3 separate regions of the Homo sapiens genome follow, and regions 1 and 2 are each reported to be linked to region 3. Evidence: microRNA targets listed by miRTarBase, many of them from high-throughput screens and not tested one by one. Region 3 holds a microRNA gene; each other region holds the end of a gene's coding sequence.

Region 1 (3,242 bases), not on the chromosome of region 3:
ACCAAAGCAGAGGTTTCAGAGTGGTAGAGGAGCAGCATGAAGTACCTGAACTCAAAGTTTGGTGTTCCTCTTAGAGCCAAGATCTGAAGCTCTCCCAAACATAAAGCCCCTGCCTATACCAGCTGGGATGCCCCCCTTGCTTTATACCCACATCTTGGTTAGGTCTGGAAGATTTTAAGCACTATGAAGGCTTGTCTGCTGAGAACCTAGCTGGGCTTCAGAGCCGATGTCCTTTGATACACAGGGAAATTTGACACCACCCTCACCTCCAGGCCCCAAAAGGCCTGAGTCTGGGACCCCAGTCACCTCGGTACCCAAGCTCCTGACTCTTACCTCAGTCCCAACCCCTTGACAGGCACCAGGATCATCTACGACCGAAAGTTCCTGCTGGAGTGCAAGAACTCACCCATTGCCCGGACACCCCCCTGCTGCCTCCCTCAGATTCCCGGGGTCACAACTCCTCCAACAGCCCCTCTCTCCAAGCTGGAGGAGCTGAAGGAGCAGGAGACAGAGGAAGAGATACCCGGTAAGGAAAGCAGGAATTAAGAATTGTCCCAGCCTTTGAGTTCAAATGCCACTGTGACACAGTGCGGGGGTTCAGTTCCAAGAGGGGTTTCTGCACTGATGCTGAGCCTGCAGATCCTCAGACCAGCAACCTGTCTTCCTGCCTTTTCTCTCTCCAGATGACGCACAATTTGAAATGGACATCTAATCCAGTGCAGATGACCTGGCATGTGGAGTTACAGAGGGATCCCTCATGCCACTGCTGCCACCACCTCTTCCTGGGGCATCCAAAGGCCAGCTGGCCTCATCTAATCTGGAAGGGAGTGACTTGTTAGTTCCAGGCCTCCTTTAGTTCTGAGGCAGCTAGACCAGGGATAGGAGTGGGCAACTTGCCAAGCCCTTAACTCTACTTCCTCTTCAGTCTGTGGTACTCCTCCTAACCCTAAACCCTCTATGCTCAGGGGCTGGAACTGGGGAATGGAGTAAGTCACCTTCTGACTGCTTAGTAAACATTCAAAGAAATGCCTTGGCTCCAGTGTTCTCCTCAATGCTGATTTTCTCATCTCAGCCACACAGCTGAAGGCCCTGGCAGGCCTGGTTAAGCTCAGAGGCCTCAGATCATTCCCAGCTCCCACCAGGCCCACTTCCAGCAGCAATTAGAACCTGAGGCACGCTACAGTGGCAGGTTACATGAGCCTCCAAACCATAAACAGCAATAGCTTGGCCACTGCCAAGGGCTGTTCCTGTCTTCCCAGGAAGCAGCCTTCCTGGAACCAGGGCCCCCCAGCAGCCCCTCCCCTATCCATTCCAAAGCAGGACTCTTGGAAAAGAGGTGCTGTCCCAGCCTATAGCCATCCTGTCTCTCCCTGTGCCTTTTCTGCTTCCCACCTCTAAGCACCAGTTCCTCTATTCCAACACCAAAAACCTTGTACCCTTCTCACAGCATGATAGTCCACCAAGTACCTCTCTCAAAGGGTTACAAGAGACCTTAGAGTTCACACTGAAACCCAAAATGAGGCAGCAGTTTGTTTGGCAAGTCAGAGTTACAATCCCCAATCTCAGTAATCTGGTCTTTTTCTCCTTCGATTTACACAGAAAACCCCACTCAATGTGGTTCTAATCTCTGTAACAGTAGTATCTCAAGGGTGATACAGTGCAAATAGGACTGTCTTTCCTTTTGTTGAGGGAAAAGTCTCCCCGTTCTATTTGAGTCTGTTCTCATGCTGAAATGAAACCATCCAAACACAGCTGCTCCGCCCAGCACAGGATGTGCTTTCAGTCTACTTTGGGAAAAAGTGGTAGGCAGTAGTCTGACTTTACCCAGCAGATCCCTTCCTGATGAATGGAGAAGGGAGAACAGAGGTTTGCAGATACACAGGGAGCAGGGCAGTCGAGGACACCAGAGGGGACTAGCTTGGCACCGGAAGGGTTCATCTCTCCTACCCAAGGCCCACCGCAGAGATGTTTTTATTGAAATGCATGTTATGAGTAACACATGAACTCCCTCTGGCCCAGGTGGGACTTCTTCCCTCATAGGTGGGTCAGGCCCAGTGGGACAGTCTTGGTGGTGGTAAGAAGGGAGCCAAGTGACAGAAGGTCTCCAAGGCATAGGAGATGGTGTCCGGTGAGTCTGGGGAACCGAGGATTATGAAGCCTGCTGGAAGCCTGGTATGGTATGGTTCTTCTCAGCTGTGGCTGCAGATTTCTCTTCATTGGCTGCCTCCTCTGAAAACAGACTCCTCTTTTCTGCAATTAATCTTTTAACTCCTACCATCCACTGACTGACCTCAGTCACATGGTCAACCATGAGGGAGCGGTGGATGTCATCTGCTGCGTCCCACCGGTGGCTTGAAAGCTCTGAAGAGAGACGGGGGTTGAGCAAGCAGCCTGTGGTACAAGAGCTTCCATGCCTCCCCTCCCAGTCAATCAAAATCTCAGCACCTGCTCCAGCATAGCCAACCACAGCAGGAAAGGGATTTAGGCTATACCAAAGAACCCACCCATACCTTGCACCAGTAGAGCCATTCTCTTCTTTACAGGTATTGACAACTTTCCTCCAGCCCACTGTTCCTGCAGCAGTGCCAGGCGTCGGCTGATGTCATCACATACCTGCTTCTAAGAGACAGAAGCCCCCCTCCAATTCAGTGCTGCCAGCCCAATGAGGGGAGGAGAGGGGAAGACAGCACCACATAGGAAGCACCTGCTTTCTCTGGCCCACACTTTAGAATTCTGGTTCTTTACCCAAAGATTAGAGGCCCCACTGAGAAACTGATGAAACCTTCCTTTCCCTGCTGTCTTCTTCTGACACTGCCTGATGTTTCATTGAAAAGTAGAGGTCATTAAACAGGAATTCTCTCATCTTCCCACCACCAGTCTTCCTAACCCACCTCCTACTATGACTAGAATTCTAAAATTTCAGGGGCTTCTCAGACTCTCAGAAGCTCATCCTGTAGCGTTACTTCACAAAAAGAAAACTAAGCGCCAAAGAGGTGAAATGACCATGCTACTTTCCCTTTCTTTTAAGACATTCTTCAGATCTCTTTTTCTAAGAACTAAGAAAACACTATAGCTAGAAGAGGTTTCTTTCTCCCTAACTGGGCACAATATAAATTTCCTGAGAATAAAATCAGCAGCTTCTGCTCTGAATGGCATGGAGATACAGAAAATCAGGTTGTTCACTAATAGGAGCTGAATTCAACTCTTGTTCCCACAGCATCTTCTACTGATTGGTCTTCAAA
Region 2 (3,247 bases), not on the chromosome of region 3:
ATGGGAGTGGTGTCTAACAAGCAATATAAAGAAACAATTCACTTAGGAAGAAATCAAGGAGTATTTACAGTAGCAAGCCCCAACTTTATGCCCATTTCAAAACTGCATCTGCTAATTACAGTGAGTTGTTTTGGTACCAGATGAAAAGCCTGTCTATATTGTCTTCTCTTTCCCAGTTACAGCATGAATTTCTTGCAGGTTGCTCTATGACACACTTTTTATTTCCACAGCCTGCCTGTCAGGGTCATGGGTTGCCTCTAATGGGATGTTGTTCTAACTTTGTGTCCCACAGCTGCAAGGAGCATCCCGGCTGGAGCAGAGCCAGGTGAGAAAGGCAGCGCCAGAAAAGCAGGCCCCGCCAAGGAGCAGGAGCCCATGCCCACAGTCGACAGCCATGAGCCCCGGCTGGGGCCGCGGCCTCGCTCTCACAACAAGGTCCTGAACCCACCGGGAGGCAAATCCAGCATCTCCTTCTACTAAGAGAAGCCACTGCTCCACCCGGAGCCAGACCAGAAACTCAAGAGATAGGGTAGCCATGTTTTCATTTCCTTTTGCCCAAATGAGCGGGGTGGGAAGAGGGTTAGTCTTATGTGAGCCTGGCTGCTCAGCGTCTCCTGGCCGTCATGACAGCTGCTTGGAGACCCGTGCCTTCCAGATGGCTGGGAGATGCCTCTGTGGGGATGAAATGGGGCACCCCTGGCCATCACTCATGTGTAGTCCAGGTTTGAGAGGAACTGGAAGGGGGGTGAGGGTGGGGAGGTGGGGCAGGGCATGGTCCTTGGATCAACAGCCCGCCAGCTGATTGGATGTCTAGGAATGACTGAAAGAAACCAAAACAGCCTGTCCACTGCTGCTGTGGGATGGAGGAGGCGTAAGCAGAAACACTAACAGTATATTGACCTCTTAGCAGAACCGCTTCCATTCTGGAGATCACGGCTGCTAAATCCAGCATCCCCACTTCATTTTACCCCCAGCATATTGTTCTGTAGTCTTTTCTTGAAACATCTTGATTGCTTTTCCTCGGCAGCTTTCAAAAAACCAAATAATAATAGTTATCCGTCTTCTACTTCATGGAAGATTGTTTTGGTGCCCTGACCCTCTGAAGTGCCCAGTTCCTGCCATCTGAAACCTCGGCCTGATCTGATCTCATGTTGGAATCTGCCTGTCTTTCACACAGGGCTGGTCTTGGTCCTTTACATGCCAGTTTTGCTTGTGAATTCTTGCTTTTTTCCTCTCATCAGCCTTAAGTTTAGGCGTTTGTTGTTCTCCAGTGATGTAGACAGTTCCCTTCACAAGTCACAGTTCTTCCCATAAATGAGGCCCGCTGACCTCTGCGGGACTTTAAAAATCTATTCAGATATTTCCGAGTAAGTGGCTTGTTTAAATTCTTCCTGTGTCTTTCTTTATTCCTTAATTGGTTGGTGGAAAGAAGAGATGCTTGGGAACCTTGGGTTCTTAGGTTTGGATTCTTTAATAATATCTAAAAAGCTAAATTTTAAATACCAGCTTTACATAAATGATTGTTGACTCTGGTCTGTTTCTGACACCTTTCCAGAAAAAAGTCAATTGTTCAGGTACACCAAAGAGGAAGAAGAGCTGTGGAGGCCACCCTCTACAAAGCTTTATAGAACTTCTGGATCTAACTCACAAACAAGCTTCCAGAAGAGACTAGAGACCTTAGGCCAGGAGATGAAGGAGTTCAGTAGCAAAGTCACACCTGTCCAATTCCCTGAGCTTTGCTCACTCAGCTAATGGGATGGCAAAGGTGGTGGTGCTTTCATCTTCAGGCAGAAGCCTCTGCCCATCCCCCTCAAGGGCTGCAGGCCCAGTTCTCATGCTGCCCTTGGGTGGGCATCTGTTAACAGAGGAGAACGTCTGGGTGGCGGCAGCAGCTTTGCTCTGAGTGCCTACAAAGCTAATGCTTGGTGCTAGAAACATCATCATTATTAAACTTCAGAAAAGCAGCAGCCATGTTCAGTCAGGCTCATGCTGCCTCACTGCTTAAGTGCCTGCAGGAGCCGCCTGCCAAGCTCCCCTTCCTACACCTGGCACACTGGGGTCTGCACAAGGCTTTGTCAACCAAAGACAGCTTCCCCCTTTTGATTGCCTGTAGACTTTGGAGCCAAGAAACACTCTGTGTGACTCTACACACACTTCAGGTGGTTTGTGCTTCAAAGTCATTGATGCAACTTGAAAGGAAACAGTTTAATGGTGGAAATGAACTACCATTTATAACTTCTGTTTTTTTATTGAGAAAATGATTCACGAATTCCAAATCAGATTGCCAGGAAGAAATAGGACGTGACGGTACTGGGCCCTGTGATTCTCCCAGCCCTTGCAGTCCGCTAGGTGAGAGGAAAAGCTCTTTACTTCCGCCCCTGGCAGGGACTTCTGGGTTATGGGAGAAACCAGAGATGGGAATGAGGAAAATATGAACTACAGCAGAAGCCCCTGGGCAGCTGTGATGGAGCCCCTGACATTACTCTTCTTGCATCTGTCCTGCCTTCTTTCCCTCTGCGAGGCAGTGGGGTGGGATTCAGAGTGCTTAGTCTGCTCACTGGGAGAAGAAGAGTTCCTGCGCATGCAAGCCCTGCTGTGTGGCTGTCGTTTACATTTGGGAGGTGTCCTGTATGTCTGTACGTTGGGGACTGCCTGTATTTGGAAGATTTAAAAACCTAGCATCCTGTTCTCACCCTCTAAGCTGCATTGAGAAATGACTCGTCTCTGTATTTGTATTAAGCCTTAACACTTTTCTTAAGTGCATTCGGTGCCAACATTTTTTAGAGCTGTACCAAAACAAAAAGCCTGTACTCACATCACAATGTCATTTTGATAGGAGCGTTTTGTTATTTTTACAAGGCAGAATGGGGTGTAACAGTTGAATTAAACTTAGCAATCACGTGCTCAGAGCTTTTGCCTGTCAGTTGTGTGTGTCCCTTATAGTCCCTTCCCCCACAGCTCTTGCTGAAAGAGTTTGCCTTGTTTTGTTTTGTTGTTTTGTATTTAGCCAGAGGATGCCAAAATTAGTCTTCTCAAAGCTTTGAGTAGAGTAAGTGTGGGAATAAGCCAGTTTTTTTTTTTCTGTTTCTGTAACTTAAATGAACGGGTTTTTTTCCCTTGTATGCCACTTGTCCTAACATGTCCTTAAGGTGTTTAACCTGCCTCTGACCTGGCTTGCAATGCATAGGTGAGGAGAAGCAGAGAGCTTGTCATATGCAAGTCCTGTCAAGAAAACAGGTGGGCATGG
Region 3 (3,247 bases):
GAACAGCCACTTCACCAGTGAGGACATAGAAGCCAGTGAACAGATGTTCAACGTTATCAGGCATTAGGGAAATGAAAATAAAACCACAGTGAGCTACTGTTATGTACCTACTACTAGAAAAGCTAAAGTTAACAAATACTGCAACTATCAAGTGCTGACAGGGATACAGAGCAACTGCCTACTGTGGTGTTTAACTTACAGGGGTGCTCACAACGCTGGTGGACTGCAAAATGACAGACGCACTCGGGACAACAACTTGGCTCTTATGAAATAAACATATACTTACCAAATGACCCAGTAATCCTGTGCCTATTTACCCAAGAGAAATGAAGACCCATGTGTTACACGAAAACCTGTACATGCATGTCTGTAGCAGTACGATTCATCATCTCCAAACCCTGGAAACAACCCAGACTTTTTTTCTTTTTAGGCAGACTCTTGCTCTGTCGCCCAGGCTGGAGTGCAGTGGCACAATCTCAGCTCACTGCAACCTTGGCATCCCAGGTTCAAGCAATTCTTATGCCTCAGCCTCCCGTGTAGCTGGGAATACAGGTATGAGCCAACATGCCCAGCAAATTTTTGTATTTTTTGTAGAGATGGGGTTTCGCCATGGTGGCCAGGCTGGTCTCAAACTCCTGGCCTCAAGTGATCCACCCGTCTCAGCCTCCCAAAGTGCTAGGATTACAGGCATGAGCCACGGCATCCGGCCACAACCCAGACATTCAACACCTGAATGGATAAACTGTAGAACACCCATGGCATGGAACAAATTACAAACTCAACATACCCAGCAACCTGCAGGAACGTCAAAGGCATTAGGCTGTGGGGAGAGGCCAGTCCAAAGGTTAAATATAGTTTGGTTCTATTTACATGACATTCTAGAGAAAGCAAAACTATAGGGATGTAGCACCGCTAAGTGGGTGGGGGTGGAGAAGCACATGACCACAATAGGACAGCATGGGAAGTGTTCTGGGGATGGACCTGGTGTGCCCTACGTGTGCAAAAACTGCACCCCAAGAGTCAACTTTACTGCATGTTTTCAAAATATTTTTTAATGTGATGAGTGGTCTGGGAAATCCTCGCCTAACAAAGTGGCTTTTGATTCAAGGCCTGAAGAAGGGGAGGGCCCACTCCAGGTAGATGACATGGCCAGGGCAAAACCTGAGGCCAGAGTGTGCCTGGGGATATGAGGGACGTGGAGGGCACCCATGTCCAGCCCACCTCAGTGCTTCTGCCTCAGTGAGAAGGGGAGGGAGTTGGCCACAAGGGGGCCTGGGTGCATCAAATAGGAAGCCGGTGAGTCAAGCAGCTCGGGGCCAGTGGGGCTGGAGAGATGCCAGAGCCAGGGGCTATGTGTGGACTTAGGGTTTGGAACCATTAAAGGGCTCTGCGACGGGAGTGGCAGGATATGACCTATTTTTGAGACATTGTGCTGAGAACAGGCCTTAAAGGCAGAAGCACAGAGCCTGGCTCGGGGCGCTGCAGTACTGAAGCCCCATAGTTGAAAATTATCTTCCTCCCAGCTCCTACCCAGGCCCTCTCCCTCTCCAGATGCCTACAGCACACCAGACAGTAGGCTCCTTGCTGGCACGAACCACAGCCTCCAGCTCATGGCTCTCAAATGCAGTGCAGGTATGCATGGTTCTCTTCTGGGCATTCTGGGCAGGGTGCCCTGCAGGAGCCACAGTTAACTGCAGTGCAACTAATGAGACACTGCACATCAGGGACCACTTGCCATTCATGACTGCAGGCCCCACCACAGCTCCACGATGTGGGCCCCACTCACATCCCATCCAGGGCAGGAACGTGAGCCATGGGGAGGCTAAGAGCAGACCCAGGGTCACACAGTGATGAGGCTGGCACTGAGGGCTCCCACCTCATCACACCCTGCAGCACACCAGCAGGGGCTCAACTGATCCTGCAGGCACAATTGACCTCCGGAAGAGCCAGGCCTTGGCGGGGAGGGGTGAAGGTGGGGGTCAGGGGGCAGCATATCTGCCTGGAGACATTCAGTGGCCAGGTTGGGGGCAGCCCAATTTCCTGAGTGGAAGTGGGGGACACAGGCAGGCTCAGGCGTTTCTCTGCTCTGGAGGAAGGTACTCAAGGCCCAGGTGTCTGAAGATGTCTTCCTCTGAAGCCGCTTGGAAAAATGTCTTCTGCAACAGAAGCAGGACTTCCGTGACCTAGGAGTCTTGCCACTGCTGCTTCCCTGCAGGAAGACTGAGGGTGGGGAAGAGCCCAGCGCCGAGGTGGGGTGTGCTCTTGAGGGCCAGGAACTGTGTGTGGAGACCCAGATTCGGGTCCTATGGGTTTCAGGCTGGAGGGGTCTGGGGCCATTTCAGATTGTGGGTCAGGGAGCGGACTATGGGTGCTGTTTGCTGTCCCCAGTCCCCAACAATGTACCTGCTCCGGGTCAAACAGCCCATGGCTGTTCAGCCACAGGCCCTTCTCCTTCCGGCTGAAGCGGCGCAGCTCCCGCTGGAAAAGCTGTAGGGAAGGGATTGTCCTCAGCAGGGCTGGCCCAGCCCCACCCCCAGGCGGCCCAGCGGCACACTGCCTACCTTGGAGCCAGTCCAACCGAGCAGGGCGAAAGGGAACTGGCTGACGGGTGCAACTACCAAGTCCACTCTCACGGCCTTCCAGGATGGGCAGGGCCTCGTGGATCCCCCCACAGCAGCCCCTGGAGGTTGTGGTAGGCGGAAAATGCAGAAACTTCTCTCAAAAGCGTCCATGTGGCTCTGTTGGGCCAGGCGGGTAGGGGACTCACAGCAGCTGTGCTGGTGCTGGTGGTACAGGATGAGGCCCTGTGGGGAGAGGCGGGCGTGGCTGAGACCATCCGGTGGTGTGGAGAGAGCAGGAGGCAGTGGCATTGGCCAGCGGTGGCTCTTGGGGAGCAGGGAGGCCCTCACCTGGTCCTGCAGGCGGCACATCACTCTAGGCAGCAGCCCCGCCTCCTGACCCTCCTTGGGGTGGGTGATGAGGAAGTCCACGTCATGGCCCTGCAACTTCCCCCTGAGGGCGTCAGTCTGACTCTGACTCAGGGACACGGCCTGCTCACTCCAGCCCCAGGCCACATCCCTTCCAACGAGTGGGCCCGCTTCAGGGTCCCCGACTCAGGTCCCTTCACTGGGGAGGGGTCTGAAGCCAAGCCAGAGGGGCACGTCGGGCCTTCTTACCTGCGGAAGCCGCCGGTCAGCGTGACGGTGGCCCCAGGCAGGGCCTGCCCCACAGCTTCCTCCACCACCTG

The links. The annotated mature microRNA hsa-miR-6838-5p reads AAGCAGCAGUGGCAAGACUCCU and lies in region 3 at 2,186-2,207, opposite strand. An mRNA with a match to its seed (bases 2 to 7 or 8) in the 3' UTR can be bound and repressed. Matches are read on the target gene's strand: a 7mer-m8 pairs with bases 2 to 8, a 7mer-A1 pairs with bases 2 to 7 and ends in A, and an 8mer does both.
Region 1: miRTarBase lists EIF4EBP3 as a target of hsa-miR-6838-5p. The part of its 3' UTR that is shown has no 7-base or 8-base seed match.
Region 2: miRTarBase lists JPT2 as a target of hsa-miR-6838-5p. Seed matches in the 3' UTR shown: 7mer-m8 at 849-855 and 7mer-A1 at 936-942.

What each region holds. Positions count from the first base shown.
Region 1 is chr5:140,548,551-140,551,792 of GRCh38, forward strand. It overlaps EIF4EBP3 (eukaryotic translation initiation factor 4E binding protein 3), which reads left to right. Exons shown (of 3, transcript NM_003732.3): 2 at 356-526; 3 at 684-1,026. The coding sequence ends at 712. ANKHD1-EIF4EBP3 (ANKHD1-EIF4EBP3 readthrough) reads left to right here. Exons shown (of 36, transcript NM_020690.6): 35 at 356-526; 36 at 684-1,026. The coding sequence ends at 687. It overlaps SRA1 (steroid receptor RNA activator 1), which reads right to left. Exons shown (of 5, transcript NM_001035235.4): 4 at 2,511-2,619; 5 at 1,518-2,361. The coding sequence ends at 2,150. Among named protein-coding and RNA genes, the nearest start is that of EIF4EBP3, 2.5 kb to the left of the region's middle. RefSeq lists an enhancer at 1-182.
Region 2 is chr16:1,698,519-1,701,765 of GRCh38, forward strand. It overlaps JPT2 (Jupiter microtubule associated homolog 2), which reads left to right. Exons shown (of 5, transcript NM_144570.3): 5 at 293-3,247. The coding sequence ends at 480. Among named protein-coding and RNA genes, the nearest start is that of MAPK8IP3, 6.1 kb to the right of the region's middle.
Region 3 is chr7:44,071,222-44,074,468 of GRCh38, forward strand. MIR6838 (microRNA 6838) reads right to left here and starts at 2,212; the gene lies at 2,157-2,212. It overlaps POLM (DNA polymerase mu), which reads right to left. Exons shown (of 11, transcript NM_013284.4): 7 at 3,177-3,247; 8 at 2,910-3,012; 9 at 2,562-2,804; 10 at 2,404-2,487; 11 at 841-2,156. The coding sequence ends at 2,070. RefSeq lists enhancers at 2,878-3,077, 3,148-3,217.